2 separate regions of the Homo sapiens genome follow, and region 2 is linked to region 1. Evidence: fine-mapped expression QTL. Tissue or cell type: whole blood. Region 1 holds a variant in brackets; the other region holds the start of a gene. All regions are shown on one strand. Distances are from middle to middle.

What was found. PIP is the estimated chance that this variant, and not a neighbour inherited with it, causes the effect.
Region 2: CCDC18-AS1 starts here. The variant in region 1 is fine-mapped to the expression of CCDC18-AS1 in whole blood (TOPMed, PIP above 0.99).

The regions. Positions count from the first base shown.
Region 1 is chr1:93,194,934-93,203,041 of GRCh38, forward strand. It overlaps CCDC18 (coiled-coil domain containing 18), which reads left to right. Exons shown (of 29, transcript NM_001378204.1): 7 at 6,959-7,055. Among named protein-coding and RNA genes, the nearest start is that of CCDC18, 18 kb to the left of the region's middle. The variant G/A (reference allele first, on the strand shown) is at 4,661.
Region 2 is chr1:93,341,670-93,349,777 of GRCh38, forward strand. It overlaps CCDC18-AS1 (CCDC18 antisense RNA 1), which reads right to left and starts at 4,142. Exons shown (of 9, transcript NR_034089.1): 1 at 4,055-4,142. DR1 (down-regulator of transcription 1) reads left to right here and starts at 4,238. Exons shown (of 3, transcript NM_001938.3): 1 at 4,238-5,196. The coding sequence starts at 4,977. RefSeq lists enhancers at 3,833-4,368, 4,738-4,807, 4,868-5,077.

The sequences.
Region 1 (8,108 bases):
GATCTTGGCTCACTGCATCCTCCGCCCCCTGGGTTCAAGCAGTTCTTCTTTCTCAGCTTCCTGAGTAGCTGAGATTACAGGCATGCACTACCACACCCAGCTAATTATTGTATTTTTAGTAGAGACTGGGTTTCACCATGATGGTCAGGCTGGTCTCAAACTCCTGACCTCAAGTGATCCACCCTCCTTGGCCTCCCAAAGTGCTGGAATTACAGGCGTGAGCCACTGCGCCTGGCTAAATATTGACTTTGGCTTCACAAAGTGAGTAAGTGGGGGACAGACACATTCTGGGCAGCATGTGCAAAGGTATAGAAGTATAAAAGGGTATTATTGCTGAAGAACTCTTAAGTAATTTTATGTTCTTATAAGTAAATAGGTGTAGTGGGAGATGAGACAAGAAAGACAGGCTGGATCCAGACTGTAAATGGCTTTGTGTGTTATACCAAAGGATTTGTATTTTAACCTGGAAAGCATAAATAGCCAATTGAGATTTTTAGGTAGAGGTATGACATGAAGACTCTTGGAGCTTTTTGAAGAACTAAAATGAATATTGACTTTCTGCTATGGTTTGAATGTGTCCCCCCAATTTTTTGTATTGGAAACTTAATCCCAACGCAACACTGTTGGGAGGTGGGGCATTTTAGAGGTACTTAGGTCACAAGGGCTCTGCTTTCGTGAATGGATTAATGCCATTATAAGAGGGCTTGACAGAGGGAGTTTGTTCCTTTTTTCCTTTCTGTCATGTCAGAATAAAGTGTTCCTCCTCCTTGGAGGATGTAGCATTTAAGGCACCATCTTGGAAGCAGAGAGATTAGGCCCTACCAAACTGCCAGTACCTTGATCTTGGACTTCCCAGCCTCCGGAACTGTGAGAAATACATTTCTGTTTTTTATAAACTACCCAGACTATGATATTTATTCTAGCAGCACAAATAGACTAAGACACATTCTGAGATTGAAAGATCAGAACCTTTTCAAGGACTATTGGGTGGAGAAGATTAATCATAATGGATTAAAAAGCCAGTGTAAAGAAAGGGAGAGATTGTTTAGCTTTATGCTGTTTGTAAGAGATTACCTAAAACATAAGGACACAGAAAAATTGAAAGCAGACTGGATGCGGAGGCTAACACCTGTAATCCTAGCACTTTGTGGGGCCGAGATAGGTGGATCACTTGAGCTCATGAGTTCAGGACCAGCCCGGGCAACATGGTGAAACCCCATCTCTACAAAAAATATAAAAATTAGCCTGGTGTGGTGGCACACGCCTGGAGTCCCAGCTACTCAGGAGGTTAAGGTGAAAGGGATTGCTTGAGCCTAGGAGGCAGAGATTACAGTGAGCCAAGATTGTGCCATTGCACTCCAGCCTGAGTGACAGAGGAAGATTGTGTCTCAAAAAAGAGAAAAAAAGAATGGAAAGAAATGTTTCAGATAAATACTCACCAAAGCAAAGTTGATATTACTATATTAGGATCACACAGAATAGACTTCAGTGCAACAAGCATTACCAACATTAAAATGACTCATATAATGTTTAACACTTAACCAAGAAGATATAAAGACTCTAAACCAGCAAGATATAAAGACTCTAAACTTATATGTATCTAATAATTTAGTCCCAAAATACATAAGAAAAATAACACAATTTCAAGGAGAAAAGAACAAATCTGTAGTCATATGGGGAAAATTCTTTATACATTTATCAGGAATTGTTAAGTAACAAAAAATTAAGGCTTGAAGTGTTGAATAAGACAATTAATATTCTTGATCTAATGGATGTGTATATGGAACCATGTAGTCAACAGTTTGAAATTGACATTCTTTCAAGCAGATGTAATCTGTTACCTCACTATGCTAGAAAGCATGAATTTGAACAAATTCCAAAAGATTGATGTCGTATGTATTATCTTCTGCAACCACAGTTCAGTTAAGTTAGAATATAACTCCTTGAAATCCTGTATGTTTGGAAATGTAAAACCAGGCTTACTGGTGTTCATTGACCTACTGGTGTTCATTGACCATTGAATAAATTAGAAAACCTTTAGAACTGAGTGATATAAAAAATGCACATCACTGCATGTAGGCTGTACCTAAAGACACTCTTAGAGGAAAAAATTTAACCTTATATACATGTATTATATCATGACTGAAAATTAATGAACTGAAATAGACTATTGTGTGGTCAGGAAAAGGAGGACATCAGAAGAAAGAATGAACATCAAAAGAAAATAGAAGTAAGGAAATAATAAAGATAAGGATGAAATGGATGAATAGAAAACAGTGAAACAATATAAAGGATTACCAAAACCTAAATGTGGTTATTTTCACAATGAACAAGAAAATGGGCATCAGACAAGATTAATAAAGGAGAAAAGGCACAAGTGTTGGGATTGGCAAGGGACTCCCAAATTACAGATTTAGCTATAAATCGGTAAGCAATAAGAAATATATAAGAAATAAGGCCAATAACTGAATCATTTTAAAGATGATACATTTGAAAACTTAGACTAAATAAAATTCTCAGCAAAATAAAATTTAACAAAACTAACTTTAAAATAAATGAAAAACCTGAATAAATATATGTGTGTGTGTGTGTACATATATATGTGTGTGTGTATATATATAGCTATTAGGGTTATCAAATCAGTAATTAAAAATCTGCCCACAAATAACTAAACTAGTCAAAACAATGGTGACAAAAGGAAAGGAAACATCAGGCCCACTACAGCCCATGATGACTAAAATGGAAAAGACTCTCAAAAACAAGTTATGGCAAGGATGTGGAATTGAAACTCTCCTGCATTTCTTTTCTTTTCTTTTTTTTTTTTTTTTTTTTTTTTGAGACAGAGTCTCGCTCTGTCGCCCAGGCTGGAGTGCAGTGGCGCGATCTCGGCTCACTGCAAGCTCCACCTCCTGGGTTCATGCCATTCTCTTGCTTCAGCCTCTCTAGTAGCTGGGACTACAGGCGCCCACCACCATGCCTGGCTAATTTTTTGTATTTTTAGTAGAGACGGGGTTTCTCCATGTTAGCCAGGATGATCTCAATCTCCTGACCTCGTGATCCGCCCGCCTTGGCCTCCCAAAGTGCTGGGATTACAGGTGTGAGCCACCGCGCCCGGCCCACTCTCCTGCATTTCTAATGGAAGTGTAAATTGGTAGAACCACTTTGGAAAACTGTTTGTCAGTAGCTGCTAAAGGTAAACATAAGCCTGCCTTATGATCCAGCATTCATTTCAACAAAACTTAGTCCCTGTATTAAAAGACATGTACAAGAATGTTAGAGTAATTTTATTCATTGTTAAATGTTCATCAACAGTGTAATCTATAAACTGTGGTATGTTCACATAATTATACACATCAGTAAAAAAGAGCAACTACAACTATGTAACAACATGGATTATTATCACACATATAATGCTCAGCAGAAGAAGCCAGACACAGTAGAATACTGTATAATTCCATAGCAAATCAAGGATAGGCAAAATTAACATATGTTGTTAAAAGTCCAAATGGTGCTTACCTTTTTGGGGTAAAGAATATTCACTGGGAAGGTACACAGGGGTGCTGGAAGTGTTCTCTATTTGATTGGGTTAGTAGTTAAGTAAGTATACACATTATTATAAACTTCTCTCATTTAGGATTTCTGTACTTTACTCAATAAAAAATTAAAATCAAATAAGAAAAACTATAAGAAAAAATCTACAGAAGATATGTATAGTCTTAATTTTTTTTTAAAGAAATATGGTATTGCTTTGTTACCCAGGCTGGAGTGCAATGCTGTGGTCATGGCTCACAGTAGCTCCCAACTACTGGGCTCAAGTGATCCTCCCACTTCAGGCTCGCAGATAGTTAGGACTACAGGCTTGCCCCACCACACCCGACTAATTTTTAAATTTTTTTTACACATGGGTCTCACTGTGTTGCCCAGGCTGGTCTTGAACTCCTGGGTTCAAGTGGTCCTCTTGCTTTGGCCTCCTAAAGTGCAAGTATTATAGGCATGAGCCACTGTGCCTGGCTTTAATGCATGTTTTAAAATGTATTTGGGGTTTGTTTTAATCAGGTATGGTAAGATACAGACACAGGACTGACATGGAGAAAGAAATTTTTATACTTACAGATTTCTAGAAGTAGGAGGGGCACAATATGCTGTTTTGGGATCCTTGGGGTGTTGCTTCACGAGCCAGAAACCTCTGTGGCCAGTGGCACCTTTGCCCGAGTTTTACTCTGGCCCAGTGGGCTCATTCTGCCCACTCAGCCTGGCAGGCTGCGCTTGGCTCGTGCTACCACCCTGGATCCCACACCTGCCAAGGGTGAGCTAGGTGCAGAATGGCAAGGGGTGTGTGAACGACCATAGGGTCCAGCCACTATACATAGCCAGGCATGCCGGCTGTGGTGGTGTGAGCAGCTCCAGGCGCCAGCACGGGCGCCAGCTCCCTGTGAGGCTGTGGCTGGACCAGGTATAGCATAAGCAGCTTCTGTGGCTGACACCAGGGAACGGGGTGGTACTGGAAGCTTGGAGACACCAGGAACCACAGAGCCCTAAAGAGGGTGTCACAGCCCTGGCTCGGGAAGCTCATAGGTCTGGGCTCCCCTGAAGGGCTGTAGCTCTTCTCTCCTTCTCTTGTCTTTTCTTCTTGTTGCCTGCAACGTAGTGAGCAGGGGGC[G/A]TGTTTCAGCCATTTGTGTTACAGCATTTTAAGCCCCACCATTCAGTGGGTCCTGAGTTCTTGTCCTGCATCCAGGAAGAATGAGGTAAGCAAACAAGTGGAGGGTGAGCAAGAGAAGCTCTGTTGAGCGACAGAACAGCTCAGAGGAGACCCACAGTGGGTAGCTCCTCTGAATGGCTACCCCCACCTCATTTGCGTTCTGGTACATGTGGACACAGTCAATGCAGCAGTACCCGATGTCAATTGCCACCTTCACAGCTTCAGTTACCTGGCCCAAGGGGGACTTGCAGGTGCCCAGCCCCAGTATGAGCATCTAGGTGCTGTTGTTGAGCATGAGGTAGCTGGCCGTGGCTGCTGCACTTTACAGACCCCCACCTGGAACTGTCTTATTTTATTTTATTTTTTTTTAGAGATAGGGTCTTGCTCTGTCACCCAGGCTAGAATGCAGTGTTGCGATCATGGCTCACTGCAGCCTCAAACCCCTGCGTTCAAGGGATCCTCCTGCCTCAGCCTCTAGAGTAGCTGGGACTACAGGTGTGCACCACCATGCCCAGTTAACTTTTTGTAGAGACGATCTCACTACGTTTCCCAGGCTGGTCTCTAACATCTGGCTTCAAGCAATCCTCCTGGCTCAGCCTTCTAAACTGTTTGGAATACAGGCGTGAACCACCACACCCAGCACATAACAATTTTAGAGATGTTAAAAATGTGAAAACATGGTAAGACTATAGGAGATTATTTAAAAAAAAAAAAAAAGCGAGAACAGGCTGGACACAGTGACTCACTCCAGTAATCCAAGCACTTGGGGAGGCCAAAGTGCGAGTATTACTTGAGGCCAGGAATTCAAGACCAGCCCGGGCAAAATAGCAAGACCCCACACACACAACAAAAAGTGAAAACAATGTGTCTCTTAGAATAGATGAACTGTGATATATACTATTTGTGGGTGTAGGTTAACATGAATGTACAAAATAAAAAACACCAAAATCAGGATAGGGTTACCTCTGTTGGAAGAAGTCAGGGGAATGGGATTTGGAAGGGACACATAAGGACCTCAACTTTATTTGTAATATTTTGTTTGTCTTCTGTAGCCTTTTCAGACAAAGAGTGAAGATTCATTAAAACGTGATTGGGAGTACATGGTAATATTTATCCAGACTTTTTGATGTGGCTGAAATATGTCATTACTTTTTACAAATTGGAAGTGAGGAAGAGTAGATAAGTGTAAAGCGGATAAGTCTGGCTTGAAAAGAAGGATAATAGAGGAAAGCACAATACGTGGGAAGGTTTTTGTTTGTTTAAGTGAGAAATACAGGTATCCTTTGATCTGAACAGTACCTGTGCACACTCAGGAATTGATTATATTCCTACAGATTTTCAGAGAAGTCCTTTGTTGTCCTTACTTTCCTTTATCTGAAACTTTGGAGTCAAATAGACGTACTTAACCACATAGACTCAGAAAGTTAGGAGTACTTTTACTTGAACTTGTTTATACTTGTGGCAAAATAACCAACAGAGAGAATGAAAATACAGAAGCTAGAGTGTATTTCTGAAGGGTTAAGAGTTAAGATCTAGACTATAAATAGAGTAATTCACCCTGGATAAGAGGAGGGTCACTAACCTCACTTACATTAGAAAGAATATGATGGGAATAGGTTTAAATATTAAAATATTTTTAGGTGTGAGAGTGATATTGACCAAATATTCTCAATGTATTGTGCCCCAAATTTTCATTTCATTGCAAGAAGCATAAGGAACTAAGAGATGAGGCAACAAGGTTCGGCTTAAAGAGTGGTTGGTGGTGGTTGTGTTTTTTGTTGTCTAGATTTTTATATCTGGTATCAATAGAAGTTACCATTTTTTGAAATAACTATTTGAAATTTATTTGACCTTTGCAAAGGTCACAGAATTTACTGAGTATATTTAATATTCTAGACAATAGACTGATTCTGTAATACCTAACCTTTGAAAATGTATCATCCAGCCTCAGGCTATTTCCCTAATCTGTCTTTTCCAGATAGGGAAAAAAAAAATTGCCAACACATAAGAATTTATATATATTTCGACATTTATGTTTATTATTGTTTTGTGTTTTATTTTTCATATTGATAGAGTGAGAAAATTTTTGTAGTATGATCTACATTCTTCATTTTATACTTTAAGCCTAATACTCCTTTTTAGTGCAGAGAAATTTGTTTCTCTCCAATTATTCCTTATAATTAAAGATTACTTTGGAACTTAACTCTTCAAATGCAGAGCATTCTTCACTTTTATTCATTATCTCTTTTTAAATTTTAGAGCTGAACGACAAAGGAATGAAGCACTATATAATGCCGAAGAGCTGAGTAAAGCTTTCCAACAATATAAAAAAAAAGTGGCTGAAAAACTGGAAAAGGTAAAAGGCAGTTGTGCAAATTCAGTGTTTTGTATTACTGTCTATATTCCAACAGTAAAGGTAGGAATAATTAAAATATGTTTATGGTTGAGACAGAGAGTAATTTTTATGATCTTACAAAATCATTTAAATAAACAATTTGTAAATGTTAGTTAAGGATGATGTTCACCAACCCTTTTATTATCAGGAGAAACTTTTTTATCCAAAGAGGGAAAAGAGTAGAGAGAGGAGAAGGAACAAAATACAGAGAAGGATGGAATGTGTTAACAGAGACTGGAGCTAAAGAAGTAGAAAAAAGAAATTCATTTTTATCACTTCAATGAAAATGAAGATAGATTATGTAGCTTTCAACTGGTCTCCCTCAGTCTGCTACTCTGAGAGGGGCTTGCTTCTGCCTCTCGGAAGGTTCCTTGAACTGATTTGATATAGAAATAATAGTGAGTTTATTACATTCATTTATTATATTCATTTATTATCTTTAAGTAATATCACATGGTAATGAAATGTGTATGGAGGAACACCACAGTTGGATATTCAGATATTGAGCTCAAAAGAGAGGTCTGGTAAAGAGATACTAATATGGGAGACTTCCATCTTGAGATAGCAATGAAAGCAGAGGAAGTTTATGATTCTGATCCAAGAAAGGTAGAAAGGCAGAGGAAGGAATGTTCAGGTAGAAGGGTAGAGTAAGAAGATGGGTGTTCATTTATTAAACAATCATGAAATTCCTTTTACATGCCAGGTACTGTGCTAGTCTCTGGGAGATTCGGTGATACATAACACATGATACCTATCCTAAAGAGCTCACTGTCTAGTAAGATTGACAAGTATGTAAACAAATAATTTCAGTATTTTGGAATAAGTATAATATAGAAATAAGAGGTAGGTGTGGTAGGGTGGGTGAAGGTGGCAGTGGTTAATAAACTCTGGTGGGCCCAAAGAAGGCTTCACAGAGTAGGCAATGCTTGAGCTGCTAGGCTATCTCAAAGATTGTGATATATCTTTGAACAGTGTTAACCAGGGAAAATGATCAAAATCTATGTTCTAGGAAGC
Region 2 (8,108 bases), 150 kb after region 1:
GAAGCTAAATCCTGTAAATTCTGTTTCCAAATGCCTCTAATTTGTTTCTTTTATCTTATTATCACCAAACTTTCTTTGTTCAGGTCTACATCATTACTATTTTTACAATAGCTTAATAATTAATGTTCTTGTCTCTGTCCATTCCAGACCATCTCACATGCGAACTCAAACTAATCTTTTTAAACATTATTGTTTATGTCATCCCCCTTCTCAAAAATGTTCACTAACTCTTTCCACTGCTTACAAAAGGATCTCCAGACTTCTTAAAATGATGTGGAAAGACTTGAGACTTTGTAGTCAGAAAGCTTGGGTTGCATTTCCAATCTGCCACTTATTCACTCTGTGACCTTGAATAATCTCACTGGGCTTCAATTTTCCCATCCATCAATTGGGATTAATGACTAGTTATAAAGACCAAATACATGTGAAAGTGCTTTATATTTTTAAAGTCCTATAATGAATATAACCTTTTTTCCTTTTTTTTTTTAATTTAGAGATAGTTACCAAATTACAAATAGCTTCAGCTTTGGAGTTAAGTAACAACCTGGTTTGAAATTTCAGCTCCATTACTTATTATCTGTGAGACTTTGAACAAATTAGTAAAACTCTCTGAGACTGTTTTCCCCCCATGTCAAAACACCTATTTTGCATGGCTATATGGAAATTAAATGAAATAGCAAATATGAAAAACTTTTGGCCCAGTGTATAATTCATATCAGGCACTGATCTGTTTTCTTTTTGCCCTAACCTACTTTTCCTGCATCATATACCACTACACCTCTTTACAAACCTTATTAATAGAGCCACTCTAGACTACTTTATTTCCCCAAGCCATACAATGTACTTTTGTGTTTTTTCTTCAGCTACATGCTCTTTCCTTCCCTATCAAAATTGTACTCAATCTTCAAGGTGCAGTTAAAATATCCAGTCCTCCATAAAACCCTTTGTACTCCACAACTAGTGTGTTAATCACTTCTTCCCATGCATTCTTAGCCTGTATATTTTATCACAATATTTATTTGAATCTGGTTTATATTCTGCTTCTCCCACCAGATTATAGGGTCTTCAAGAACAAGGTGGGAGTTATATTCATCTTTATTTCTCCCACATCATAGTCAGGACACTAGACAGTTATTGAATGAATGTAGAAATCAGATGCTGTCTTCTCTTTCCACTTTCTATAGGACACCACTTCTACAAATGCCTGCCCAAACATGTGCAAAAGCAAGCACATCTTCTCTAAACAGCTCCCTTTCAACTCCACTGTTTTTGACAGTGACACTCCCCTAACCCTACTCTGAGGCTAAACTTTTTTTTTCCTTTTCTTGAGGCAGGGTCTCACTCTGTCACCTAGGCTGGAGTGTAGTAGTGTCATGGCTCACTGCAGCCTCAGCCTCCTGGGCTCAAGTGATCCTGCCACCTCAGCCTCCCAAGTAGGTAGGATCACAGGTGTGCACTACCACACCTAGACAACATGAAAAAAAAAAGTTTCATATATATGCATTCTCTCTGAAACTCTTAAAGCTTAATAAGGAGATGTTCTCTTTGTCCTTAAAAGCCTATTTATAATACAGATACATGTAGTGTACTATAAATAACTATTTAAATATGGGCTACAGATTAGCATATTTTATGACATATCACACTGGTATTTATATCCAATTAAATTTCTCTCAGCCACGTATGTAATAAACTAGTTACATGGTTCATTACTAGTTGAAGACTGACCAAGCCTGATAAAGATGATAAAAGACACTAACATTATATAACACTTCATACTATAAAAAGTACTTTCACACAACTCTCATTTGATTTTGAATCCTGTGTGTTACATAATATTTCTATATCTGAACTGAAGAAAATGAGGCTTGGAGAGTGACTTGTCTAAGTAAAAAAAAAAGCTGGGACTGGAACCTACAACTCTTACTACACATTCAATTCTGTTTATGCTACCACAGAAGCCTGTAGCAATAAACTATTACTGAAATAATGTGTGCTCTACTCGTCTATTTAGCATAAGTCTATAAACATAAATGTTACATGAAAAAGCAAAGTTATAGTTTTTTCAGGAGAGACAAGATAAGGGTCAGTGACACTGTGACAACTTGGGACATTTTTTGCCAGCCAGCTTTTTCAGACGGATAAACTTGTTAAGGTCAAGATAAATTTAGGCACCATAATAAATCTTTAAATCAACAGTAAACTGACAAAAAAAAACAAACCCACCACTTCATAAAGTATTTTTTTTTTTTTGAGATAGAGTCGTGCTCTGTCTCCCAGGCTGGAGTGTAGTGGTACGATCTTGGCTCACTACAAGTTTTGCCTCCAGAGTTCAAGCGATTCTCCTGTCTCAGCCTCCCAAGTAACTGGGATTACAGGTGCCCACCACCACACCCAGCTAATTTTTGTATTTTTAGAAGAGGTGAGGTTTCACCATGTTGGCCAGGCTGGTCTCGAACTCCTGAGCTTAAGTGATCCGCCCCCCTTGGCCTCTCAAAAGTGCTGGTATTACAAGCATGAGCCACCATGCCCAGCCTGAAGAAAATTTAATTAAAATACTGTTTTTAATCAAAGAAATTTTGTTTTGACTAAATTTAGTAGCACTGAAAAACAAGTGTCTACACTTCAGAAATTAAAGAACCAGTAAGTTGTCCTGCAGAAAATGCTAAATGAAAAAATAGCATAATAAACTGTAATGTCTTCTTGAGAGCAGCATATAGGGCTCAGACAGAACGTTTTAAGAAAACACTGTCAACAAGCCAGTTGCCATCATATGTATCAAGAGTAATGAATCTGATGAACCAAAGTGACAAAATGGATTTCAACAGTGTCTTGTTTAGTTTTTAGAAATTCCAACATCCCACTATTTATAGTATAGCCTCTTCTTCCACATGACAGTATGACAGACTCAGTTTTTTTACTTTTTTTTTTTTTTTATCTTTTTTGAGACAAAGAATCTTGTTCTGTCACCCAGGCTGGAAGTGCAGTGGCACAACCGCAACTCACTGCAGCCTTGACCCCCTGGCTCAATCGATCCTCCCACCTCGCCCTCCAGAGTAGCCGGGACTACGGGTGCCTGCCACCAAGCCTGGTGAAAAAAAAACCCGTGTTTCATATTGTCATATAGAAGAGGCTATACTATAAACAGTGGGATGTTGGAATATATATTTATATATATAAATATATATTATATATATATATATATATATTTTTTTTTTTTGTAGGGACGGGTCTCACTATGTTGCCCAGGCGGGTCTTGAACTCCTGGGCTCATGTGATCCCCCTGCCTCAGCCTCCCAAAGTGTTGGGTTTACAGGTATGATGAGCCACAACGCCTGGCTGACACACTTTTTTTTTTTTTAAATGCAATTTCTGTTTAGACCTTGACACCTGTTGATATTACTAGTCACTATGGAAAGAAGTAAAAACAGTTGCTTAAGATGCTCTAACACTTTTTTCCCCTGTAGAAGCCAACATGGAATACAACATGAAAACTGTCTAAATGGGAACCTTCTAATATAGCTCATTGTATGCCATGCATTTCCACTCCATTTCCACTATGTTGGAACTGACTTCTGCTTTCCTACTTAGCCATTAGGCGACTTAGTTGCCTCTAGGCAAGTAACTTCTCTGAAATGTTTCATTTTTCATGAAGTTTAAAAAAAAAAAGGTGAAGGACTTTAGAGAGCTTTGAACCGAATAAGGTCTATCAGACATCTTGAAAAGCTTTTTCTCCAGACGACGCAGAAACAGGCACACGGGGTTCTGCTTTCCCCACCTCCCACCCCCAAGCCCAGGTCCCATTCTTCTCACTTTCAATCCTCATTTGGGCTCCTAAAGGAATAGCAAAGAGAGTTATTTTATCAATACCAGCGCTCCTCTGTCCCCAAATCCAGCTAGGGAAGGTTTCGGAGGCCTCAGCTACTTGAGAGAGGGTAGAGACGATCCTTCCTCGCCTATCTACCCAGCCACCCACCCCTTCCCAGATGTAGCGTCCGGGCCCCAGACCAAGCGCGTGCTTGGAGCTCTCCGGTACAGTGAGGCGCGCGCTTGCCTGGCTAGGGTCCCTGTGAAGGAATGGGATCCCGAGGTGCTTGCCAGGACCGTAGCAGGCGGAAGCTGCTGGCAGCGCGAACGGGCGGCTCCCGCCGGCGTGGGTGGGGGAAGGGCGGCAGCCACACCCGGAAGTCGGTCCGGGAGGGAGGGGGAAATCTGAGGGAACGAGGCTTCCGGTGGCGCAAAGGGTGTCGGGAGCGGCTTCCTGCAAACCTTCCCTGGCATCTGGAGGGACCACCGTTGCCGCGTCTTCGGCTTCCACGATCTGCGTTCGGGCTACGCGGCCACGGCGGCAGCCACTGCGACTCCCACTGTGCCTGGCTCTGTCCATATTAGTTCCCAGGCGGCCGTCGCCGTTCCAGCAGCGGCAGCGGCAGCGGCAGCGGCGGACATGTTGTGAGGCGGCGGCGCGGGTGTCTGAAGGATGGTTTGGCCGAGGCGGCGGCAACGGCTGCTGGCGGCGGCGGCAGCGGCAGCGGGGCCTCGGGCTCTATAGAGCCGAGCCCGCTGGGTACCCGCCCGGTACCGCGGCGAGGCCAGTGCCCCTGGATCTTGCCTCTGCTCCGACGCCGTTGGGGACCAGTTAGGCGACAGCGCCCGCCCCTCTGAGGAGACACGAAGGTGGTTCCCCAGCCGCTCAAATTTCCGGACCACCGCGCTTTCCCCTCCTCAGCCTGGGCTGTGCTCTCTCTAGAATCCTCGGGCCCCCACTTTCTTCCCAAACTCATCCTAAATCTCTCACACACGCGAGTGTTCCCAGCCCTCAAGCCAGCTGCTCCTCCGTTCATTTTCTGCACCCTCTTCGCAAAGCACCCCCCGGGATCACTCTCCGAGGGCGACTTTTTGAGAAATCTCGGTGGAGTAGTGGACCAGAGCTGGGGAGTTTTTAAAAGCCGGGGCGCGAGAAACAGGAAGGTACTATGGCTTCCTCGTCTGGCAACGATGATGATCTCACTATCCCCAGAGCTGCTATCAATAAAATGATCAAAGAGACTCTTCCTAATGTCCGGGTGGCCAACGATGCTCGAGAGCTGGTGGTGAACTGCTGCACTGAATTCATTCACCTTATATCTTCTGAAGCCAATGAGATTTGTAACAAATCGGAAAAGAAGACCATCTCACCAGAGCATGTCATACAAGGTAAGTCGTGTGTGAGAGCTGGTTTGAATGAGGTTCTAGGGTAGCAGTCTGCTAATCGCGTGACCCTTTCGTGTCAAAGCCTCCATTCCTCTTCCCTGGTAAGTAACTTAATGAAAAAGCCAGACTGGCATGTAGGCAGCCGGTGCTTTAAAAACAATCCCTTTGTAGCATTTTTGCAGTACTTTTCATCCAGCGAATACATGTAAGGAGTGCAAACATTTAGGTCAGCGTCCCCAAAACGTAAAGAATAAGAGTGATCTCACTTTACAGCCAGGTAAGCCGAAGCAACAAGAATTACTTGCCTGAAGTTGAACTTAGATAATAATTAAGGAACGCAGAAATTCTCCTTTGGAAAGTTAAAATTCAGACGGAGGAACTTCAACGTGGGTGGAGACAGAGCACCCCCTTCCCCACCTGACCTTTCACCAATGTAGAGGAAAAGATTTATTTTCTGAACACATGAGTTAAAAAATTCTTAACATACAATGTGTTCAACGTTGTCAAGTTTATCGTTGTTAAATAAAAGGTGTATGTTTTCTGCTCTAAAAATGGTTTGATGGTACGTTCATGAATGAGTTACCAAATAACTCCTGTTCCATTCTGTAAGAATAGGGTGAACTTTAAATTTTCGTTTTTTTCTTTTCGTTTGCTTTTATGTCGTTTGCTTTGTTCTATTCTGTGGAGATAAGTTTTGAAATCTTTGATTGAAAGTTTATGCAAGTTTTTTTTTTAACGGAAAATTTCCCCGTCCTTTCCTGCTGTCATTCCTATTTGAATGTATACACTTAGGCTTTTATGGAACAGCACTTCTGAAAACTTCAACAGTTTCTTTTATCCTGGAAAGGATTTGGTCCCGTAATAGGGATTTGGGGGACTGTATTCTGGTGGTTTCAGAGAGGAGAAACATATTTACTATTCATAATGTTTCGGGAACGTACCTTTTGCGATATTTTTACATGTACTCTTGTGAAAGAGTTGTACTCAATTTGAGGTGAGAACTTGCCTTTTGTAATAATCTAATTAAAGTTATTGATTGCTTGTGAAATCAGGGAAAAATGATTAATTTTAATCATTTTGATAGGCAGGTGGTTGTCTATCACTTAATTTTTATAATTTAACTTTTTAAAATGTGACTTTCCTGTTGTACTGAAGTAGAGAACACATCTGCTTATATTGACCATATCCAATATTTTACTCTCAGTATTGACAAAAGGATTAAATGATTCATTTTTAATCCTTTATGACGTCTTGAAAGTAGTTTTAAAATATATCCTGCCATTTCAGTACACAAGCAGAAAAATCCCTAGGAAAAAGCATATTTGATTCTTAAAACTAGTACTAGTTTTTTTTTTTTCTACTTGTTTGGTGTGCTGAATACTCTAGCAAGTAAAATGAAAGCCAAGTTGTCTATTTTTTCCCTTGTGTATTTATTTTTACATTGTATGTGTGATTGCTGTCATAAGTCTTTCACAAGATTATCCAGCACAGATAGCTATAATTTCTTTTTACAACTCTTAAAAAGGAAAAAGAACCTTTATCAACATTGCCTTTCTAATGAAAATTGCAAAAGATTTCAGCAGGGTCTGCCTAAACATTTGTTTACACTACAGAAGTGGGGATCGTTCCAAAAACCTAATAACACATTACAGTCTGTCTTCTTGGGGAGAGTTGATTCTTTTCTAGGATATATTTAGATTTCTGATTGACATGATGGAATAGAAGTGCAGCTGTAGCAAGCAGTATGCTAAATAATTCAACTTTGGAATATGCTAAATTCAGTTTAATGTGTGAGTCAGAAAGCTATAGTGAAAAAGCATTTCCATTGTGTAATGAAGATGATTTGTTTTTAAAAATCATGTATTGACGTGTTACCTTAAATTTAAAAATTTACCTTTTTTTCTTGTATTATGCTATTCTTAAAAGTGGTTAAGAATCTACATTTTCGCCCAAGAATTCTCCCTAGTTGGGGTTGTAGACTTTATACATTTATAATCTCATATTGCTTAATTATTCCAAAGAAGTTTTGTTTTGAGAGATTACATTTTTAAAGAAATTCTTAAGGTTTATATGTTTTAGGTGTTTGAAGTGTGTGCCTATACACTAATCATAATAGGACATTTTTATACTTTTCTGTCAGCATTGATTAGGAATGTAGAATATATCCAAATGGAATAAGTAATGTACATTTTAAAGTGATATGATTCTCACATGTTGAAGTTTGGGTTTTTAGTGATAAGTTTAATGAATTAGACTTTGCTTCAGGACATTTCACTTGTTCATTTCTCACCTTGCTTTATCTTGTCTGAGCAAATTAAGCATTCTGAGATAGTTCTGTAAAATGCAAGTTAAAGTTGAACTAATTTTATCACCAGTATATCTATGAAATAACTTATTTAAAAAAATTTTTTTTTCTGTTTTGCTTATTTTGAGTTTAAGAAAGTAGACTTGGTATTGAAGACCATAGATACATGAATAGAGGGAGTTCTAAGCTATAAAAGGTGTTCCTATTTTGTTGCAGTTTTTTGTGAACACGTATTCTTGAATGAGTTCTAACATGTTCTGTTGCCTTATAGAAAGAATTGACATTGAGAGTCAGCTGTAAGTTCCGCACTGAGAATTCTTTAACCTTAGGGAAATCTTTTAACTAAGGTTTTCTTATTTGTGTACAAATAATACTTGATTTCAGGTATTACTTGTAATTTTTGAGAATTAGTCAGGGGTTGAGAACCTTACATGAAATATCTCCCCTCACATTTATGAGAATTGTAACTGAAAGTAGTAAAAGTTTGAAAGAGTATCTGAGAATTTGCGTCTTCAGCTGTTGAGTTGCTCCAAGCTGTCTTACGTTGAAGGAATTTTTAAAAAATTCCTGTCCTTCTCACACTAGTAGCTTTGTAAGATAACATGAAAAT